2 separate regions of the Homo sapiens genome follow, and region 1 is linked to region 2. Evidence: fine-mapped expression QTL. Tissue or cell type: esophagus muscle. Region 2 holds a variant in brackets; the other region holds the start of a gene. All regions are shown on one strand. Distances are from middle to middle. Region 1 holds the start of ST6GAL2 (ST6 beta-galactoside alpha-2,6-sialyltransferase 2). Region 2 has its middle 170 kb from the start of ST6GAL2.

Region 1 (8,399 bases), 170 kb before region 2:
GTCACAACTGCTGGGACCCTGCTTTCACCAGGGCTAGGACCAATGCTGGAGCTGGACCAGATCACCAACTCCTGCAAAGCCTTAGGACTGCCCAGGTCATACTTCATCCCCTTTAAATGTATTTCACCTGTGGACTAGGTAGATGCCAAGTATTTTGAATTGCAACTGTTCCCCTATCAATTCAATGGGAGGGGTGGGAGGTGGCTGGGACCAAGCAAGGGTAAATTTCAAATTTTGTAAGGGGCATAATAAATCCGTGTTTCTCTAACACTGATATCTTCGCATTGTGTACTTAATAACATTTAGAAAGAAATTTCTCAAAAGTTGGAAGGAGAGCTTTCGGAAAAATGGTAGGTATATTAAACTGAAAATGTGGTAATCCACTAACAGTGGCTGGTCATCTACAGCCCATTCAGTGTTTGGCATTGATATCAAAAATTGGTGTAAGAACATTGAAAATTTCTGTGCAAATATGCATCTGTGTTTCCCTTCCACTTTCCAAAATTAGTATATAATTATATGCAATTGTTACTTTTATAGTCATTTGGGAATTTCATCCCATTTTTTTTAAGGGATGAGATTTCAGATTTCAATGCTTAGAAAATCAAAGCTTAACATACACCTGCCATGAGGGTACTATCTGATTCCCTTAGACATTTATGCATGCTGAATTAAGTACTTAATTTAATTTAAGCAATTAAATTTTAAGATCATATTACAGAAAATCCAGGAAAAGAAAAAACTCAATCAATCAGGAATAACACAATACATTTAAAGAGCAAATGCATTAACAAAGACTGTCCTTATTATCATGCATAAGATATTTTTATTCAAAGTCTCACCCATGAGGTAGCAATCTGCAAACTAATTAAGAGCTTCCCAGAGGACAAATATCTCCAAGTTTTTGGAAAGGAACCTATCATTTATTTACCTAAGAAGGAGTGGCAGAAGCCTAGAAATCAGTTTGTCTTTCAGAAAAGATTTAATCATTTGAGAAATGCTTGGATAAATTCTAAACCTGGAGGGTAAAATTTCAGTCAGTATCAGTATAAGCAATAGACCAGAGCCTCACACACTGAAATCATCTCAGAAAGAAGAGAAACTCGGGGGTGGGGGGGTGGAACCTCCAGAAACAAGCACGTACAGGAATTTTTTCAGCAGTCCCTTCGCTATTTAATCTTTGCTGGCTGGATTGGCCACAACTCCCTAGACTCAACTTATGTCTTCACCCCACAGAGTAAACCTTTTCCCTCTTAATTATCCTCATCAGAAACTCAACACAGATAACTGCCCTCTTCTGCATAATAAATCATTCACATATTTTCAAATGTTAAATTGTCTCAACTTTGAATCCTCTAGTCTAAAAATCCTGAATTTTGTATCCTTGCTTCCTAGATCCTGTGCACCACATAGCAAACTCACCAAATGTTGGTCCTTGCTCTGACCTCACTCTTTCCAGGAGTATCCATCCAAAGCCTCTCTAAACTGTGGAGCTCAGTACTCCATATAAAGCAGTGACTCCTATCACAATCTCTACAAGACATTTAACTCAAAACTCCAGAAGCTTTCACAGCACCAAGCAAAAATGTAAGATGCTACCATTTGTATCTATTGCGGCAAAAATTGGATAGAGTGCCTTTTTAACTTTGCAGTAAAATTCAAGGCACTTCACCTATTATTTTAGACTTTCATCAGTTTTGAGCACAATATCCATTCACCTTTGCCAACAGTTTCTTTTAATGCATTAGTACAAAATTCCTCAAGTGGTATATAAAAATTTTGGTTGTCAGTTCCAGAAAAATAATGGGGGAAGGAGAGTGGGTAAAAACAGGTTCAAGGCCACACATCAGTTTTCCTTTTAAAAAAAGTTTTAACCCTAAATTTGCAGCGCATATATATATATATATATATATATATATACATACACACACACACATATATACATATGTGTATGTATATACATATACATCATATATATATAGCACTTCACTTTATTGGAATTCTTCCTTGGTCATAAATTATATTTCAAGTTGGCAAAAAATGTTGATCAGAATTTCAAAAAAGGGAAGCATCAAAGTAACCAGCATGGGGTTTTTCAAGTGTGCAGAAAGTTCTCTAAATACAAAATGTGCTTCCAGCCCACCAAAGACCCCCCTCACCCAAGCAGGCAGTCCTCGGCGAGGAGGGTCAGCATGCCCCTTTATGGTCAGAACGGCAGTGGTGCAAAAGACAATGATTTCAACCAAATATGGTTTGCCTCTCGCCAAATTTTTCGCATGTCCAATAAAAATAAGTTCACAAAAATCCAGCCAAGCATTACTTTCCCCCCAAAAGTGCTTCTCAGATTACAAAACAGCTTTGAAAGTTCAGCCTGACAAAACAAATATGGTACTAGGAGGAGAGACCTGGAAGGCAATCACAAAAAGTCTCATTTAAATTCCTGGAAAGCACAGCTTCTCCAAACACAGCTATTCAGCTCTTTGGAAGGCAGCACTTGCGGGAGCCATTGAGTTTAACTTCACTCAGTCCCCCAACACAGAACCGGCAAATCCGAATGAGATGGACGTCACACTCCCTACTCAAAAGAATGCATCAAATATCCACTCCGTAACACCGCGGAAAGTAAACCCAAAAGCGGAGTTTGCCGCCTGCCAACTACATAAGAATTAACACTCGGGTATTTAGGATTCTAAAGATCCCTACTACCCCAAACATTATAGCCACAGAGAACCAGAAATGAACAGAACACACTTTAACCTTTAAGAAGTGCAGTTTTGTACGGGGGTTGGCTGAAGAAAGACAAAAATCTTCACTCCCTTCCAGAGCCAAAAGAGCCAAAATAAAAGATCACCTTTACTGAGCCACAGGGGCACAACTGTATCCGCCCGTCCCCAAAGCGCAAGCCGTCCTCCCGTTCGCTTCTCCAGAATTTCCTGCTTTTCCCCAAACCACCTTCAACATTCCCCACACACGGGTCTCGCTCCTAAACACGGAGTGTAACTCCGCGCACAGCAGCGCGGAGGCTGCAGCGCCACCAAGAAAGGCGTCGCCAACCCTTACCCAGTGCCCTCCCTTACCAGCCTTCTTCCCACGCCGCGCCTCGAAGCGCACGACACCGTGGTGCTCGGTGCTCCCCCTGGCAGCGCGGCACTGGAGTCCAAGGCGTGCGTGTCACATTTTATTCCCCGGCAGCCGCTCGGGTGCGCGCGCTACGCGCTCCCACACTCACGCTGGCGCCCGCTAGAGCTGGGACCCTGGCCGGGGTCCCCGACTCACGCCGCGGAACTTGGGGGCTGCAGAAGGCGAGTGCGCGGCGGGAGTCGTCCTGCCGCAGGCTCGAGTCCTCCTCCTGCCACCGTGGGGTCTCGGAGCTGCCCCGCGCTCCCGTCCCAGGCGGCCTGCGGGATCACCTCTCCGGGGCCAGCGCTGCTCCGCGCCGGCGGCAGCTGCAAGCGCGGGCGGCGGGGCACAGCGGGTGGCTCGGCCTCAAAGCCGGCGGGAGGCTACGCTCAGCCCCGCGCTGCACGCCTCATTGTTTCGGGCAGCGCGGCGGCGGCTCCCGCGGCCAGAGGAACCGCGGCCCCGAGCCCCGGGGAGAGGCGGCGGTTCCCGGCCCACGCACCGAGGCTGCGCCGCGCCCCGCCCCCGAGCTCCGCTCGCCCCAGAGCCCCCTCCCTCTCCGCGATCCCTTTCATCCTTCCCGCTCCAGGCTCACCTAGCTGGCGGGAGCCGGGCACTGGGAAGTTGGGCTGCCCCCTCCCCGCGCCCCCGGCCCGGCAGCTCGGCCCGCCGGCGAGCGCAGGCGGGGCGCTCCCTGGCTGCGCGCGGATTTCTGCTTGTCGCGGAGAGTGACTGCAGACTTGGGCTGCGTGGGGCGGTGCGGGGCAGCACGGCTGCCTAAAAAGGCGTGTTTCTCCCCGGCCGCCGCCTCCATCCAGCCCTAGTTCTTCCGAAGGTTACCTGCACAGTACCCGCCTGGCACCGCGCCTGGACACCTCCGGGGCACTCGGGTCCCGGGCGGCGGCAGGAATGCAGGAATGCGCACAGGCTGTGGGCGGCCAGGAGGGAGTCCCGGCGCCTGCCCCGGCGGAAGTGAGTCTTTGTGTACCCTGTCCAACACCTCCCCCCGCCAGCGCGGAAGGCCGGGCTACCTGCGCGCCTGGCAGCGCCTGGCAGCCGGCTGGGTGGGGCGCAGGGGAGCGCAGCATCCTCCCCGGCTCGCTAGCTCCCTTTGTTCATCTCGCTCAACCAGGCTCCGCACTGCCGCCTGGCCCTCGCTCCCAGAGCTTCTCTAAGGATATGGGATGGACTTGGGAGCGGGCCACCTTTCATTTGGGAAGGGTAGCTCGCCAAGTCCGGTGACGGTGCTCCCTGGAGACCCCCACCTGCCCGCCCCTCCACACTGCCGGTCCCCAACCCCAAGAGGGACGGAAAGTTCTTGGGGTAGAAGCCGGCGGGACAAGTGGTTGAAGCAGCCTCCGGAGCCAGTGGGCGGCTGCGAGCTGGGCAGCTGGAGCCTGCGGGCGGGGCCGCGGGGAGGTGCCCATCGAGTGTCGGTCTGGTCGCGTGCGGAATGTCCACTTGTCACCGCGGCCCTTGCGTTTTCTCGAGACGGCGGCAGCTGGTCCTAGGACCCCAAACCGCGCCGCCCTTTGTTTGCTGGTAAATACTCTCCTGTGAACTTCAGCGTGTCTCTCCGCGCGCACTCCTGGCATTGGGTGCCCCACCCCGCTGGTTCTCTCGCGGACCCAAAGAGCTGTTCAGGTGTAGGGGAATCCCAGGTAGATGGATAATATTGCTAAGGTTGGGCCCATCTCAGGGGGACTGGTTAGTCACCCCTCACCCCACCCCACACCCTCAGTCGCTAGAAGGACACACGTTTTGGAGACAGAGATCTGCCATTAAATGTATTATTTAAAAATCCGCAAATACTTTTATTCAAGTAATTTAGACTTTTTTTTTAGGGGGGAAAAAGCAATTAACTGGCTACCCAATTCATTCAGCATTCATTAGTGCCTACCTTAGCCTGGAACTCTGAGCTAGACAGTGGGCGCCCAGAACTCCCTCAAAGAGTTTACAGAAATGTAAAACAGCACGGGAATTAAACTAAAATCGAGTGGGTATAATGCACTGTGTTCAAACAAAAGTGTGGGCCGAAAACGCTTACTCAGTATTTCCCCAATTGTATTAATTATGTCTGACACATGGAATTCTGCGGAACTGCCTGAATGAACAATGTGTTACACAGATATTTTTTAAAAAAAGAAAAATTATGGCCGGGCGCGGTGGCTCACGCCTGTAATCCCAGCACTTTGGGAGGCCGAGGCGGGTGGATCATGAGGTCAGGAGATCGAGACCATCCTGGCTAACAAGGTGAAACCCCGTCTCTACTAAAAATACAAAAAATTAGCCGGGCGCGGTGGCAGGCGCCTGTAGTCCCAGCTACTCGGGAGGCTGAGGCAGGAGAATGGCGTGAACCCGGGAAGCGGAGCTTGCAGTGAGCCGAGATTGCGCCACTGCAGTCCGCAGTCCGGCCTGGGCGACAGAGCGAGACTCCGTCTCAAAAAAAAAAAAAAAAAAAAAAAAAAAAAAAAGAAAAATTATATTTTATAAATGTGAAATACATACAGTGTGGTTAAAAGTGACCAAAACAAAACAGAAACAAACAACCTGATAGAGACCCATAGCTGGTGGGGATAGAGAAAGGAAATACTGCAGAAAGACTCACCTTCTTAATAGTAGAGGGGCGCAGAGGGGGTTGCAAAGTCTGTGGGCTTCTGTTTCTCTTCTGTATAATGGATGTAATAGTACCTACCTTCAGCCTGGCGCGGTGGCTCACACCTGTAATCCCAGTACTTTGGGAGGCCGAGGCGGGCGGATCACGAGGTCAGGAGTTCGAGACCAGCCTGGCCATAATGTTGAAACCTGTCTCTACTAAAAATACAAAAATGAACCGGGCGTGGTGGCAAGCGCCAGTAGTCCCAGCTACTCGAGAGGCTGAGGCAGGAGAATCGCTTGAACCTGGGAGGCGGAGGTTGCAGTGAGCCAAGCTGGTGCCACTGCACTCCAGCCTGGGTGACAGAGAGAGACTCCCTCTCAAAAAAAAAAAAAAAAAAAAAATTATATAGTATCTATCTTCAAGGTTTGTTGTAAGTAGAGAGCATGTGTTAAAAGCATCTCCCCCAGTGCCTGACATGTTATACCTAATAAATTGTAGTAATTAATAAATGACAGTGGCCATTATTAAAACACTTTACCTTGAAACAGAAAAAATTGTACACTTTTTATAGTGTATATATATCTTATACACTTACTATCCTTTCTGCGTAAATACTGCCAAAGTTGATATCTTAAAGAAATTTTAATGAGTTAAATAAAAGTGTCCAAATAACAGTCAACTTTATAGAAGTAGAAAAACTACCATCTTAAGGCAAATATGCAAATTACTGTTGTAAAACTTTAAGTGGATTGAGTTCATTACTTATGATCAAGGTAGTAAATACACAGTCACTAAACCGACTTAAATCTATTGCTTCCCAAAGGAACCACAAAGCCAGTTTATATACAGGAAGCTATATGCTGATGATTGCTTCTGTCAAAGTGTAATGGTAAATAAAATATTTTGGCACCCTTTAGTTTAATTACTCAGAGACACAAGGAGCAGATTATTTAATTATTTTATTGGTCTGTAGATTCATGAGGAATTCCTGAGTACCTCTGGCACTATAATATTATTTTCCTTACAAAATCATCAATAACAACAAAGCACAATAAACTTATTCCTACAGATAGGCAGCATTCAGAAATCCACTTGCTGTTATCCATTTGCTCATAATAATATGAATTTCCTTTCTTTCTTTTTTTAAATTCAGGGTTCCTCAATTCTCCTTTTCTCACCCTGTGTTAACTAACCAGCTGAGCTTTCACAGGGACAATTCCTTCCTGTTTCAGGAACTTGAAGCACATCATGAACAATCAACCAAATCAGGAAGCTCAGTTACTCAGCTGAGAAGCATTCAGGTGGGACAGGGATGAAGAATAAATATCTTCTAACTCCACCATTGGTGAATCTGGGCTATTTTATTTCTCTTACCTATTGTTCATATAAATATATTTTTCTCCCATTCATTATGCCACTCAAATTTCACAATAAAACTATAGATTATTTTACAGATGGGAAAACTCACCGATAGAAACTTTCAGGACCACTTTCTCTAAACAAGTTGCCTTCGTTTTCTGATTTACCTGAGATTTTCCATCTGTAGCATTGCAAAAACACATTGATTTCTTCCCTTGCTTGAGAAATTAGTACCTCAGAAAGGAAAATCTATATCTGGGCTCCTCCTATTTAATCAGTGAAACGAATTTTCATGTGGCCGATCAGTATTTAAAAAAAAAAGAATTTCAGATTCTTGCTTTTTGGAACCCATTATCCACTGACAAGATCAGGTAGAAACATTTGTTTCCTAGCCAACCCATAGATTTTTTTAAAAAAGTAGTTCCCTTTGTCTTTGGAAATGTTCATAAGGAAATAGACCACCATTAGAAAAAAAATGCTTCAGGTATTTGCATATGTATAGGAGACAAAATCCTCGGCCAGCAGGAGCTTCTTCTACCTTTCTGTCAGTGTTTTCAGGTGGAGAGAAAAACATTATTTTTTAGCATCAGATATAGGAATGATGCCATTTTCAGTATCTGCAGTAGGAACAATAAAACCAAAATGCAACTGGTTACCCTTAGGCTTGCTGACACCCGCGCTAGTCTGTGGGCTGCCGTCCAGGAAATAGAGGCTGGCCTCAGAGGCGGGGTCCTGGGGCCACAACCTGACCTCAGCTGGCAATGAGCTGTACCAGACAGAGCAATAGAAAAACATGTCAGTATGTGAAAGAAACTATCCTTTCCTAAACTTCTCCTTGCAGCCCACTATCCAATATTAAAAAGACAGAACTGAAAGTTGGATCTCTGGGTTTTAGTCCTGACTTTGTCCCTTTAGTGATGTTATTTGAACTTTCTGAGTCCAAAGAACCTCATCAGCAATAGAGACAAACATCATCAGGTAGCTGCACACAAGAATCTGAGTTCATATCCAAGCTTACAGACATTCACCAAACCACAGCACTTCACAGTTTATGTAAAGACTTTTCTATCCATTATCTCATTGGATTTCTCCAGACTCTGAATGATGAAGTGCAGAGATGAGGGAATTAAGGATAAGGGTGTATAGGCCAGATAGAGGTAGCCTTGCCACTTCTTAATTCTATGGTAATAATAATTACATCTAATCATTAATATTTTAAGGTCTATATTCTAAATCCTTTGTAAGCATTAACTCATTTAATCCTCATAACAGGTTTTATTTTAATTTCTTTCACATTTAACTTTTTATTTTGAAATACTTT
Region 2 (8,399 bases):
GGAGAAATGCAAATCAAAACCACAGTGAGATACCATCTCATGCCAGTTAGAATGGCGGTCATTAAAAAGTCCGGAAACAAAAGATGCTGGTGAGGATGTGGAGACATAGGAACACTTTTACACTGTTGGTGGGAGTGTAAAGTAGTTCAACCATTGTGGAAGTCAGTGTGGTGATTCCTCAAGGATCTAGAACTAGAAATACCATTTGACCCAGCAATCTCATTACTGGGTATATACCCAAAGGAATATAAATCATTCTACAATAAAGAAACATGCACATGTGTGTTTATTGCAGCACTATTTACAATAGCAAAGACTTGAAACCAACCCAAATGCCCACGAATAATAGACTAGATAAAGAAAATGTGGCGCATATATACCATGGAATGTATGCAGCCATAAAAAAGAATGAGTTCATGTCCTTTGCAGGGTCATGGATGAAGCTGGAAACCATCATCCTCAGCAAACTAACACAGGAACAGAAAACTAAACAATGCATGTTCTCATTCATAAGTGGGAGCTGAACAATGAGAGCATGTGGACACAGGGAGGGGAACGTCACATACCAAGCCCTGTAGGGGGGGTGGGGGCAAGGGGAGGGAGAGCATTAGGACAAATGCATGCGAGGCTTAAAACCTAGATGGTGAGTTGATAGATGCAGCAAACCACCATGGCACACGTATACCTACGTAACAAGCCTACACGTTCAGCACATGTAACCCAGAATTTAAAGTAAAATAAAAAACAAAATAAACAATAATAACTGAACAAGCAGAAAATCTAAAAGGAGACTATTTCATTTGAACACATACGGAATATAGTCAAAGTTACACTCAGGGAAAAATACATAGCCTTAGAAGCTTTTGTTAAATAGAATTTTTTCTTCCGATTATGAAGGATTAGTTGCTAATCAATTTAATGGAATCACTAGGGGAAAAAAGAACAATATGCCTAATCATGATAATATTTTAAATTACCAGAAATAGAAAAGATTCTGAAAAAACCTTGACAATTAAAAAAGGAATAAGAATACCCCAAACAGCAATAAATTGAAGAATAACTTCCAATGTTGGGAAAATAAAAAAAATTTTCAGCAGAATTTGCTACCTAGCTTAACTATCACTTAACTGAAAAAGCAGATTAATAATTTTTTTAGATATGCAAAGCCTCTAATTTTACCTTTCTGTATCCTTCCTTAGAAAGCCATAGGATTCTTTTAGCTAAACAAATGTTTAATAATAATTGTAAAAAGTAGAAAACAAAGAATCCCAGAAATTTTTCTTTAAATAAAGAGGATTGGAGAGAATTCACTGGACTGCAACAGATCTAGACAGCAGCTAGTCCAGCCTTTAGCAGGAGAGAGGACCACAAGAGGACCCCTGGATAATTTAGTTTTTATAGATTAGATGAGATAGTAGATGATAGAACATCCAGAAAAAGTAAGTGGATTAATGGAAACATGCAAATGAAAAAGAGGCAATTATTAATTCAAGGGAAAACAAAAAGCTGTATCTGACTAGGTTCTATAGTGAACAGTATTTATATAGGAATAAGTGAAGGAATGTTGTTTATTGACTTAACTAAAATTGCTCAATAACTTTTATTAATTTAACTAAAAATAGTGGTTAACTATCTGAAAAGTTAAAGAAGGGTATGGTGAAGGTCTAAATAAATATTTATCATGTTATGAACTCAATAAAATATTTAAAATTAATAAATGTAAAAGAACATGATAAACTTAACACTTGAAAATATGGATGCAATGACCAGAATAAGTAGCTAAATACAGAGGTTAAGTTTCAAATAGCTAGAAAGAGGACATTGAATGGTCCCAACACAAAGAAATGATAAATGCTTGAATTGATGGGCATACCAATTACCCTCAGCTGATTTGTATACGTGTGTTACACCATCGGTATGTATTCATGAATGTGTACAATTATTATGTGTCAAACATTTTTTTTTAAAGTGATTGTCGATGGAGATTTGTGATAGGGGCTAGACAATGCATGAGTGGAGGTCTACTCTTTGTGTTTTTGTTTTGTTTTGTAGTTTTTGGTTTTCTAAACTTTAAAGGCTTTTTATTGACTTTTTTTAATTCATGAAAAGGCTTTTAATAAATTATAGTTTGTTTCTCCCCAAAGCTAATTGAAATAATAATTAAATCCACTTTGTAAAAGCTGTAAATAGACTACTTTTGGCAAGTGGTCCTCAACTGGCTTATCATTATCTAATCTTTCTCCCAGTTCTAGATGGTAGTTTTTAAATTTCTGGGGAAATTTTAAATTTTCATGATGACCGAAGTAGTACCATAGGCATGTAGTATATGGGGCAGAGGTGGGGGAGAGTAGATATAAAACATAACCAATGAACGTCAATCTCTAATGTTCCACTAAATATAATTTACTTGGAATATATCTATCATGTACATTAATGGAACTTTACTCTGTTGTTCACTATTGTAGAAAAATTATACGCACTTAACAGTAGTACTTCTTGTGGTAAAAGTATTGCAAACATGAATATAACATAAACATCTTATTTAGGAACAGAGTCTGACTGCAGTGTTTTATATTTACTGGTGCAGTTGTCTGGAAGAATGTATATTTTGAAATACCAGTTATTTATTGTGAAGGAATTGAAGAGCTGCACTATAATCCTTCCTGTGGCTCCAGGATGCTGAAGAACAATTTGATCCTTAGTCAACATTTTTGAAATATCAAGTGAAGGAATATATCCCCTGGAAATAAATGAGAGTCTTGCTGGGTTGCTAGTTATTGATTTCATCTGAGAACGTTCCTAAGCATGCCATTCCTGGTTGTCCAGATTGTTTATTTGGTCACATGTAATTTACTGTTAGCTGCATTAAATAACAAAAACAGGATACTGATCTATCCAAGTGCTACAAAACTAGCAATGTATTTAAGCTGACAACTCCCAGATGGGGGAGTTACCTGTGCTGGTGTGATTTACATGTGTGTCAGTGCTCATCTCTCAAGATCAAGACATACATTGTGTTTTGGGCATTGATGATCACTTCTGGCTACTTTCAAAAAGCTTTTTCTTGCAAGCTCTTATGCTCCCTGTTTGGTATTCTTTTATAATGCTAAGTTTAGTTGGCACTGGATAGGGCTACTGTGTTATGTAACCTGAAATCCACTAATACTGTCTTTTAGGGCATTATATGA[A/T]TTCTAAAGCCATATAGTAGTCTCTGTATAGTAAAGTGTGCATAACAAAATATTCCTAAGATAGAGAACGAGAGGGTTCCTGAAGACTTAGTTCCACAGGTATAGTCATTAAGTATTAATTTCCATGGGCTTTCTTTTTCTATAAATCAATTAAAATATTAAATGAAATAATTTATACACAGTGAGTAGATGCTTAGTCTGTAGGCATAAACTTATTTAGGTCTAATTCTCAATTTAAGGATTTGGATTTCGAAGAATATTCTGTAACTGAGAAATTGTAGAGACTTAATAACTTAAATCAATACTCACACCCTTTCGGTTTACACATTTACACCTTTCTTAAAGATAACACAATTTCAAGATGATACTGGGAATACATGAAACTTATCTGGCCAGGAGGAAGATTTTAAATAGGAATGTAAGAAAGTGGTGGGCAGGGAGATGGAAATGCAAGTGTTACATGGGATTTTCTGCAAAGCCCCATAAAAGGAAACAATTCAAATAAAAGAAGTGCTCTTTTTCCCACCTTCCCTCTTTCCACTTGGTACTTATTGATGTCTGGAAAGGGGATGGGATGGCGGGAGCATTTTTGGTGATGGCCTTTCTAAAAAAGGTTGACCAAAAATAAATTTCCTTAAATGATCTCATTAACTTAGAGACTTCCCAACACGGATTAGTCTTGATCTGATCAATAAACAGAATATTCAACTTTCTATTTTGCATAAAAAGAAAACCTTTTATTACAGCATTTTTTTTCTAGGTGATTAAAACAAGTAAAGCTCCCTGATTCTAGATCTGATTTTAGATTCCACTCATAATGACCTTCTCTCCTGCTCGATAAAGTTTCTATGCACAAGGAGGGAGGAGGAAAGTCTTTTAGAAGTGATTGGTGTACACTGTAACAATATTCAAAGGATATTCAAAGTTATCAAATGAAAAGAAACACTTTCTGGATATTACCAGAATTCAATTTCCACATTCCACAGTAATCAAAGTTTACTAATTTTGTGATTGTTTAAAACTTTTTTGTGGTACTTTTTTATATTTCAAAATAATACCTTGGTGTTCCTGATTTAAAACTTTTTTGTGGTGATTTTTATATTTCAAAATAATTCCTTGGTGTTCCAGTCAACTTAAGATGCTGTTGTCTCCCCATTATAAAAGAGGAGAAAGTTTGCCTTAAAATTTATTTCTTTTGAAGCACTTTTTTTTGCATTATTATATTTGTGTTTTTAAAATTTTTCTAACTCACAGTGATATTCTCCTACATTTTGTTCTATTAATTTTACATTTCATTTTTATGTGTTTACTCTCCTAGGATTCACATTGTATTGGGTGGGGTAGTTGTTCAGTTGAGGTAGAGCATTCTTTTTTTCCATATTTTTCATTACCATCTACTGAGTAGTCTCTCTCCTCTTATTTGTTTTTTTATACATACTATTTTTATTATTCCCAGAAAGCATAATTTATTTAATTCACAATACACAAACATACACACAGTTTACATTTTATTTTGAAACTACGTAATCTAAATCTTTTACTGTCATGTATGTAATACATTATTCTCATTATTATCTAGTTATTGCATTAAAATTTTTAAAAATGTTTTATTTCTATAGGTTTTGGGGGAACAGGTGGTATTTGGTTACATGAATAAGTTCTTCAGTGGTGGTTTGTGAGATTTTGGTGCGCTTATCACCCGAGCAGTATACACTGAACCCAATTTGTAGTCTTTTGTCCCTCACCCCCCTGCCACCCTTTCCTCTGAGTCCCCAAAGTCCATTGTATTATTCTTATGACTTTGTATTCTCATAGCTTAGCTCTCCTTGTAAGTGAGAAGATACGATGTTTGGTTTTCTGTTCCTGAGTTACTTCACTTGGAGTAATAGCCTCAAGCTCCATCCAAGTTGCTACAAAAGGCATTTTTTTATGGTTGAATAGTATTCCCTCTTTATTTTTGCTGCGAATGCCATTAATTCGTTCCTTTTTGTGGCTGAGTAGTATTCCATTGTGTGTATATGTGTGTGTGTGTGTGTGTGTGTGTGTGTGTGTGTATGTGTATATAGATATATAAAATTTCTTTACTCATTGATTGATGGGCATTTGGGCTGGTTTCAGATTTTTGCAATTGCAAATTGTGCTCCTATAAACATGTATGTGCAAGCATCTTTTTCATATAATGACCTCTTTTCCTTTGGGTAGATACCCAGTAGTGAGATTGCTGATTCAAATAGTAGTTCTACGTTTGGTTCTTTAAAAAATCTCCACACTGTTTTCCATTGTGGTTGTACTAGGTTACATTCCCACTAGCAGTGTTGAAGCATTCCCTTTTTACTGCATCCATGCCAACATCTATTTATTTATTTTTTTTGATTGTGGCCATTCTCGCAGGAGAAAGGTGGTATGGCACTGTGGTTTTGATTTGCATTTCCTTGATCATTAGTGATGTTGAGCATTTTTTCATATGTTTATTGGCCATTTGTATATCTTCTTTTGAGAACTGTCTATTCATGTTCTTAGACCACTTTTTGGTGGGATTGTTTTATTTTTTCTTGCTAATTTATTTGAGTTCCTTGTAGATTCTGGGTATTAGTCTTTTGTTAAATGTATAGATTGTGAAGATTTTCTCCCACTCTGTGGGTTGTCTGTTTACTCTGCTGACTCTTCCTTTTGCTGTGCAGAAGCTCTTCAGTTTAATTAAGTCCCAACTATTTATCTTTGTTTTTGTTGCATTTGTTTTTGTGTTCTTGGTCATGAAGTCTTTGCCTAAGCCAATGTCTAGAAGGATTTTTCTGATGTTATTTTCTAGAATTTTTACAGTTTTGGGTCTTAGATTTATGTCCTTGACCCATCTTGAGTTGGTTTTTTTACAAGCTGTGAAATGAGGATCCAGTTTCATTCTGCTATATGTGGCTTGCCAATTATTCCAGCACCGTTTGTTGAATAGGGTGTCCTTTTCCCACTTAATGTTTTTGTTTGCTTTGTTGAAGGTCTGTTGGCTGTGTGTATTTAGGTTTATTTCTGGGTACTCTATTCTGCTCCATTGGTCTATGTGCCTATTTTTATATCAGTACCATGCTGTTTTGGTGAATATGGCCATATAGTATAGTTTGAAAGCAGGTAATGTGATGATGCCACCAGATTTGTTCTTTTTGCTTAGTCTCGCTTGGGCTATAGAGGTTCCTTTTTGGTTCCATATGAATTTTAGAATTGTCTTTTCTAGTTCTGTGAAGATCGATGGTGATATCTTGATGGGAATTGCATTGAATTTGTAGACTGCTTTTGGCAGTGTGGTCATTTTCACAATATTGATTCTACCTATTCATAAGCATGGGTTGTGTTTTCATTTATTTGTATCATCTATGATTTCTTTCAGCAGTGTTTTGTAGTTTTCCTTGTAGAGGACTTTCACCTTCTTGGTTAGGTATATTCCTAAGTATTTTAATTTTTTTTTCAGCTATTGTAAAAGGGGTTGAGTTCTTGATTTGATTCCCAGCTTGGCTGCTGCTGATGTATAGCAGAGCTACTGATTTGTATAACGTAATTTTGCATTCTGAAATTTTACTAAATTCATTCATCAGTTCTAGGTGCTTTCTGGAGGAGTCTTTAGGATTTTCTAGGTATACAATCATATCATCAGCAAACAGTGACAGTTTGACTTCCTTTTTACCAATTTGAATGCCCTTTATTTATTTCTCTTGTCTGATTGCTCTGGCTAGAACTTCCAGTACTATGTTGAATAGAAGTGGTGAGAGTGGGCATCCTTGTCTTGTTCCAGTTCTCAGAGACAATCCTTTCAACTTTTCCCCTTTCAGTATTGTGTTGGCTGTGGGTTTGTCATAGATGGCTTTTTTTACATTGAGGTATGTCCCTTGTATGCTGATTTTGCTGAGAGTTTTAATCACAAAGAGATGCTGTAATTTGTCAAATGCTTTTTCTGCATCTATTGAGATGATCGTGTGATTTTTGTTTTTAATTCTGTGTATGTGGTGTATCACATGTATTGACTTGCATATGTTAAACCATACCTGTATCCCAGCTATAAAACCCATTTGATCGTGGTGGATTATCTTTTTGATATATTGTTGGATTCAATTAGCTAGTATTTTATTAGGATTTTTGCATCTGTGTTCATCAGGGATATTGGCCTGTAGTTTTCTTTTTCTGTTATGTCCTTTCCTAGTTTTGGTATTAAAGTGATACTGGCTTCATAGAATGATTTAGAGAGGATTCCCTCTTTTTCTATTTTGTGGGATAGTTTCAATAGGATTGATACCAATTCTTCTTTGAATGTCTGATAGAATCCAGCTGTGAATCTGTCTGGTCCTGGGCTTTGTTGTTGTTGGTGGTGGTGGTAGTTTTTTTTTAATTACCATTTCAATCTTGCTGCTTGTTATTCGTCTGTTCAGGGTTTCTAATTCTTCCTGATTTAAGCTAGGAGGGTTGCTCACTAGAGGTTAAGAAGCACTAATTTAGATGATTTTCACCATCCCTCTGGCTTTCAGAATTTTGTAACAGTCATGATATTTTTATTGAAGATGCATTACAAGCAAACTCCATGGGAATTGCAAAGAAGTGTATGACATGCTCTTGTCTAACTTAAAATTTAGTTGAGAAAACAGACTTGGAGGTTAAGTATAGCCGGACTGATGTCTGATGATCAAATACAAGTGGATGTGGTGATTGAACTCTGAGTGGTCTCGGCTACCATGTCTGCTATAATAGGAGGGATCAATCAAGTCATGAAGCTGGTGAAGCTAGAGGCCGGCAAGAAGGTTCAGGAAAGTGCAGAGGCACCAATGTGGGAAATGAACTGTGTCTCGGATGGGGCACAAGAGTGAGGAGGTTGTGGCAGTGCCCCTGGGCCTTCACTACCCGTAAGTGGATAGAGCATCAATACTTAGATAGGCTCAGGTGTGAGAAAAAATGGACACGGGGGTTGTAGCCAAATGGTGAGGAGCCTTGAATATGGAAATAGATTTTTTTCATACTTCAAATAATTTTTATTCAATAACAAAACTATATATCTAACTCTAAATATGCATATATTTATTTTTGCATATGGAATATAGCTTTATTGCAAGAAAAAAATCATTCAAGACAGAAACTTAGGATAATCCTGAAGACAGACTCACTGAATTTTGGTTCGTATAGCTAGACTTGTGAACCTGGAGGCATCCTTTTGGTCGGTGTTTTCAGAATGTGCTCTTA

What was found.
Region 1: it holds the start of ST6GAL2, and the variant in region 2 is fine-mapped to the expression of ST6GAL2 in esophagus muscle (GTEx, PIP 0.97).

Annotation. Positions count from the first base shown.
Region 1 is chr2:106,883,016-106,891,414 of GRCh38, forward strand. ST6GAL2 (ST6 beta-galactoside alpha-2,6-sialyltransferase 2) reads right to left here and starts at 3,152. Exons shown (of 6, transcript NM_001142351.2): 1 at 3,078-3,152. LOC124907864 (a long non-coding RNA gene) reads left to right here and starts at 3,518. Exons shown (of 2, transcript XR_007087169.1): 1 at 3,518-4,092.
Region 2 is chr2:107,053,088-107,061,486 of GRCh38, forward strand. No RefSeq gene overlaps it. Among named protein-coding and RNA genes, the nearest start is that of ST6GAL2, 170 kb to the left of the region's middle. The variant A/T (reference allele first, on the strand shown) is at 3,189.